Homo sapiens: one gene and its partner. The protein of the gene in region 2 interacts with the protein of the main gene of each other region in a pairwise test. Each region holds a gene or a part of one and is shown on either strand. Other genes may lie near its edges.

What was found.
Region 1: the proteins of TNP1 (region 2) and PPARD interact in a two-hybrid assay, tested with the Homo sapiens proteins (one study listed by BioGRID).

What each region holds. Positions count from the first base shown.
Region 1 is NC_000006.12:35,411,735-35,415,557, reverse strand, and holds part of PPARD (peroxisome proliferator-activated receptor delta), read right to left. Parts: intron 1-3,823. UniProt on the Homo sapiens protein: Ligand-activated transcription factor key mediator of energy metabolism in adipose tissues. Receptor that binds peroxisome proliferators such as hypolipidemic drugs and fatty acids.
Region 2 is NC_000002.12:216,858,751-216,861,599, forward strand, and holds TNP1 (spermatid nuclear transition protein 1), read right to left. Parts: upstream 1,315-2,849; 5' UTR 1,285-1,314; coding exon 1,146-1,284; intron 946-1,145; coding exon 917-945; 3' UTR 708-916; downstream 1-707. UniProt on the Homo sapiens protein: Plays a key role in the replacement of histones to protamine in the elongating spermatids of mammals.

The DNA of each region.
Region 1 (3,823 bases), on a different chromosome or scaffold from region 2:
GTAAACACTAGCCCTCTCACCCAGAGAGTAAAGTATCAGTTTCACCATCTTTGATGACAAGTTCAGCAAATAGACACTATTGACCTTATTCACATCATTTGTGGCTGAGAGCTCTCCTGCATATCTAGCCTCCAATGCTGGGAGAATGCCGTTGTCATGGCTGTGAAGACAGCCAGGAGGCGCCCGATTGGTCTATTTACTTTGCTGGCAGAGCTCACAGGCAAACAAGCACCCAGCAGCTTCTGAAGTCAGGCCAAATTCTGCAGGGATTTGAGGCTGGGTTACTGAGCAGCCTCTTTACTTCTGCTGTCCTGTTTGCCTGAACTGTGGGCTCCTTGGGACAGGCACTCAGCCTTGTCCACCACTGTATGGCCAGCCCTGGGCACAGTGCTGGGCCCAGCCTGATGCCCACCAAGTGCTTGCCAAGTGAGGAGGTGCTGAGGCCAGGAGGAAGGACACTTTATCTTCCTCTTTCTCAAGGGTGATTGGGATGGATGTCACTGAAGCAGGAGGGATGAGAATGGGAATGGGAGGTGAATCCTGGCTCTAGCTGTCTCTACTCCTACACGCCCAGGGGACCCTGGCAAGTGGGTTTCTGGTAACCTCAGTTTCCTTGTTGATGGGAAGGTCTGTCCTGCCTGGCTGGGGGGAGGGTGAGAAGGTGCATGGCAGGTGTTGAGCTCAATATCTGCACTGAGAGTCAGTGCTGAACTGCTGAGGAGGGTGGTCAGGGGTGACTGTGGAGCCTTCCTGCTGTTTCAGGGCTCAAAGCTGTGCGCTGTCCTTATGGGTCCCTCAGGGGACTCCCGAGGCCAAAGTAATAACTCATGGGGATGGGGCAGAGAACTAGCAGGTGCTGAGACCTGCGATGTGTCACATACCCCCACTGACTCTCACCTGGCTGGCCCTCAGGCTGGGTAGGACACAGCCTATAAAGGTGAAGAGAATGAGACTTGGAGAAGTGATGGCACTGGCGAGGGCTACAGCTCACAGTGACAGACCTGGGATGCCTGCCCTGGTCTCTGTGATCTCCAAGCCCTTCTGCTCTGGACACATGATCAGGCTCTGTCTCCAGGGCCCCTCACCTGCCAGATCCTCACCCCCCTTTTAAACAGTTAATTTTACCCTTAAAAAAAGTACAGTTGCCTTTCAAATTATGGAAGTAGTGCAGACTTGTTGAGAAAAACACAGAAGGGTATGCAGGATCTTATGACACAGCCTCCTTAACCATGATCCTGCTCCTCAGAGTTAGCCCCTGAGTCCTTCGGTATAGACTCTTCCGGTGCCTTCTATGAAACATAAGGATTTTAAACAATGGGATCCCCAACTTGTCAGGAACTTATTTAATATATATATAAACCAGCCTTATCCTTTTCAATGACTCCAGAGTATTCCACCATATGGCTCTACCACAGTTTACATAACCAGTTCCCCACAGATGGGCACGTTCCTATTTTTGCTCTTATGAGCAGTCCTGCAGTAAATAAGCTGGCATGGGAATCTCTGAGCATGCTGAGCAAGTACTTACACAGGACACGTTCCTAGAAGTGGGAATGCAGGGTAAAAGAAATGCACACTTGGCCAGGTGTGGTGGCTCACACCTGAAATCCCAACACTTTGGGAGGCCGAGGCGGGAGGATCACCTGAGGAGTTCGTGACTAGCCTGGCCAACACAGTGGAACCCCATCTCTACTAAAAATACAAAAATTAGCCAGGCACGGTGGTGCACGCCTGTAATTCCAGCTACTTGGGAGGCTGAGGCAGGAGAATCGCTTGAGCCCGGGAGGCAGAGGTTTCAGTGAGTTGAGATCGTGTGCCACTGCACTCCAGCCTGAGCGACAGAGCCAGGCTCTGTCTCAAAAAAAAAAAAAAAGAATCACACATTAAGAAGTGTTGGCCCACACTACCCTTTCACCCCTGGTGGTGGGAGGACCAAGTCCTCCCCACCCATCTGACAGGTGAAATGGCATTGCAACTTAAGGTGCTTTCTTTGAGTTGGTTAGACTGAAAAACCTGTCGGGATTTCAGGCCATTCGTATTTGTCTTACTGTTACCTGTTCTGATTTTCCTGCTAGGTTGCTTGTCTTGTAGAATTTTTGGGAACTTTTCATACACTACAGCTTTAACACAAAGTGATTATGTCAAGTAACCCTCTCTCCTGTTTCAATGACTGAACAAGGAAGTCTATCTCCACTTCATCCACTTATTGATAAACAGAATCTATTAAACACCACCGCCTACATAGTACCATGTGACTGGTGAGGCAACCTCTGCCCTGGACGTTTCCCGCTGTGCCCTAAATCCCACAACGAAGCTGCCTGAGAGGTCACCGCCATGCCTGCCTCACCCTACCCCTGCTCCCAGGCACCTCACCTGGCCTGCACGGGAACAGTGATGCTATTTGGGAAACAGCCCTGGTCCCAAGAAGGGGTGTGGAGGAAACTCCAGGACAGAACACTGCTCTGCAGGGGACTTCCATCTGCCTGGGCTCAGATGTGGGGATGAGGTGGGCCACGGCAGGCGGCATAGCCACAAACCCTGTGGCCGTCTCTTCTCCTTGCATTCTCCCCTGAATCCTCATGACATCCCACACTCATTCTTAGTCCCCACTGTCTTCCCTTTGCTTTCTAACCCTCCCTACCTTCTTCAGATTTAGAACAGTATGTGCTACTGGCACTGAGTGAATTATCACTCCTGGTTAGCTGTTCCTCTCTTCTGAGACAGGCTGTGTCTCCAAAGCCATCCCAGTTACCAGCCAATAGACAGGAAGTTGCTTACTCGGGGAATGGCGGACACCTTCACTTTGGCCCTAGAATCACATTTGGCCTACTTTGGTCACTCCCAGGTGATCCTGGGTGAGATGAGAAGGACTGAATGATGGCTCTATACTCCCTCCACCCAACTCTATACACTGAAGAGGAAGAACTTCTGCAAAATTCTGGGACTTGCTTTGCAGGTTCAAGGTGGTGTGGCTCCAGGATTCAGACCCATCTTAGCTGCAGACCCAAACAGGAGCCTGCGCTACCTCCACAGCCTTCACCCTGCCTTAGCTTGGACACTAACTGCCTCCTCCTGCTCCATGCAGTCACAGGGGTCCAGAGCCCATTTCTGCGGGGTGGGCTTGCTCCTCTGCCTGAGTCACCGCCTGTGGCTAGGATCTCCTGCAGCTGAAAGCAGCAGCGAGTGCAGGGTGTCTACTCCCAGCAGTATATCCTTATGACCCTGAGTTCCCTCTAAGGGGAGGAGCGAGGATGAGCTGCATGTGCAGGCCTGCAGCACTTGGGTAAGGAGAGAAGTGGTGGGAGAAAGCAAGAAGCAGAGGGATCAGGCCAGGCGCGGTGGCTCCTGCTTGTAATCCCAGCACTTTGGGAGGCTGAGGTGGGTGGATTGCTTGAGCCCAGCGGTTCGAGACCAGCCTGGCCAACATGGTGAAACCCCATCTTTACTAAAAAAATACAAAAATTAGCCGGGCGTGGTGGTGCACGCCTATAATCCCAGCTACTCGGGAGGCTGAGGCAGGAGAATCACTTGAACCCAGGAGGCAGAGGTTGCAGTGAGCTGAGACTGTGCCACTGCACTCTAGTCTGGGCAACAGAAGGAGACTTTGTCTCAAAAACCACAAAAACAAAAAAGCAGGGGGAACTGCAGCAGGGAAAGCCAGGGGCTGCATGGATTCTGGGTGCTTTTGAAGGTAAACATAACATGATGATGATGAAGATGACAGAACAGTACAGGGTACTAGAGAAAACTGTCTGCACTGCTGATAAATAAAGGGGAACCAATAAGTGAGACAGGAGAAGCTACAACTGCTTGGCTGCATAAA
Region 2 (2,849 bases):
CAGTTCTCTCTCTCTCTCTCTGTCAAATGATCAATACTCAGATTGAGACAATTCCTACTTCTAGGCACACTGGACTAAGGCTTATGGCATGCTACGAGGCAATATCCCACTCTTCAGTCTTGCCCACCTCAAGCCCAACATAGCTACCAAAATAACCTAAAGAAATCTAAACTCTCATCACTTCCACTGTTACCAATAGGATCCTTTACAAAGAACATGTTGGTCTCTGTTCAGAAGGTGTTCCCATCTCTTAGCCTGCTAATACTGCCCATATGATCAATGAATTAAGAGCTTCTAAGAGCTCCTCCAGGTGATCTCTATCTCCGGGCCAAGTCTTTAGATTTAGTTTAGCTTTCAACACCTCTATGCTATAAGCTCTGACGAAAACAGCTTGCATCCTTTGGTTTAAGCTCTAACAAAAACAGCTTGAATCCTTTGGTTAATGCTAATGAATGCATTTCTCCCTTTTTTATCTCTTCTCCCTTTCCATGTTGAGGAGAGAGACAGCACACTGGGATGAAGACAAATACGGCAATAGTGTGTGGCCAGAGTAGGACCACCTCCCACGGTGGTGGGAGGGAATTGGAGGACAAATTACTTTTGATATTTTCCAAGTCACATTTAATGGTTTCATACTGGCCAATTCTTCCCCAAACCCACCTAGCTCAGGAACTCAAGTCTTTCCAACCAAAAGATCAAAGTAAACATTTCTGCTTTCAAAGTTTTATTGAGATGTTGGGGAAAAACAGCCAACATATACATTCCTCATTTCGTCACAACTGGCATTTGATCCACATTCCATAGGCTCCTCTCTGGCTTTGATCTAACATCAGGTCTCCTTGGCAGTTCCCCTTCTGCTGTTCTTGTTGCTGCTTGGTGCTGTGTGAAGCGCACCAGGGCAGAGCCCGCTGGGGGCTCACAAGTGGGAGCGGTAATTGCGATTGGCTGTGGGAAAGGACAGGTTTGCAACAGAGACACGAATTAGAACATTCCCATCAAGACTCTTGTTGCTCAAATCTGCATTTAGTTATTGGAAATAATCTCAGGCCAAGATTTCAGGGTCCTGTGAGAGCTGCCTCCAAGAGGGAGGGCCTGGCAGCAATGTGTGCCTAAGTTTGGCAATCTCCTCCCCATCCCTCACTCACCGTCATCGCCCCGTTTCCTACTTTTCAGGTTGCCCTTACGGTATTTTCTTTTGCTGCCACCTCTCTTGACTCCCTTGTGAGGAGATCGGCTCTTGCTCCTCCTCATGCCATGACTCTTTAATTTGCGGCTGGTCGACATGGTAAGTTCTGCCAAAATGAGGGGCTTTGCAAGGCCCGGGGGCCAGGAGTCTGGGTATTTAAGGCCTTGGCCATTGTGACAGGGAAGGGGCATGGCTCAGCAGGTGGGCGGGGCTCTACTGTGCTGTCACTCACCTTTGCTGCACTTTGGTCACATTTGTGAAATAAGGTGGTCCTTTTCGTGCAGCTCAAGGGCTGCCCTCAGTTTTGAGGTCCTTTTTATGTTAAGTGAGGCTTTCCCAGAGAGGTGTTATTGAGAAACTGAATCCCAGCCCTGTGCCAGGCATTGGATGAGTACAAGAGACCATTCAGATATGCTTCTCCTGCCTGTAGGAAATGTAACAGTCATTGAGTGTGTGTGTATGCATGACTGTTTAAGTCTCTCACAGCATCCAGAGATAATAAATTTATTTCTGTAAGGACTTGACTCTACAGAACCCAATTCAATATGATCAAAATAGAAATATTCCTTCTTTTTCATCTAGGTCAGGATTTCTCAGTCTTGGCACTGTTGACACAATGGGCAGGGTAACTTTCAGTGGGCTGTCTTGTGCACCCTAGGATGTTTGGCAACATCCCTGGCCATTACCCACTGGACACCAGAGAAGCCTGGCAGCTATGACAACCCAAAATATTCCCAAACATTGCCACCTGTTTCTTTGGGAGGCTGGGGAAGTGAGGGAAAAAATGGCTCTGGTTCAGAACAATTAACCTAATCATTTTTTAAAATTCAGTCACAGATATTGATCACATAGCATATGCCATACATTTAGGTGGTAGAAAATTAGTGGAGGATAAACACACGTAGATACTGTGCTCATGGAACTCTCAGCCCACTGGGGAGAAAGCCATTCATCAGATGTCTACATAAATCAGTGAGTAAGTACTTACGGAGTCATTTTGGCTGGAGAAGGGCAGAGGGAAACTCCCTACATGGTACAGGATGAGGCTGGAGGGAGAGACAGAGATCAAACCATGATCAAGTACATTGGGAAGCCTTTAAAAATGTTAAGAGGATGGCATGTGAGATTAGAGGGTGCCAAGTGGGTGATGTATTGACTGGAGGAGCTGTGTAAAGGGAGATGCTACTGTCAACATCAATGGTTCAGCAGAGAGAAAGATTTGATGATGGTTTAGGTCTGGCCAGGAAAGGTGTTGATTGAGATCTAAAGTAGACAAGAGACCAAGGCTTGGTGACGGATTGAATTTGGGAGGTGAAAGCAGATGGTGTCAAGGGTGTGGCTTTTGTTTCTGTATAATGCAGTTATCTGGATGCTGGTGCCATTCATGGGGATAAAGGCCAGACATGGGGAGAGTGATGATCATGTACTTGGTATAAGACATACCAGCTTTGAAGTGCCTTTGACACTTACAAATAGATATATTGAATGATTATTGGTGTATAAGTCATCCAGCCTTTCCTTTTTCCTCCATTACACCTCATAGTAAATGCTTTGCTTTTGAAAATGTTTCTTTCTTTTTTTTTTTTTGAGACCGAGTCTTCTCTTTTGCTCAGGCTGGAGTGCAGTGGCACAATCTTGGTTCACTGCAACATCTGCCTCCTGT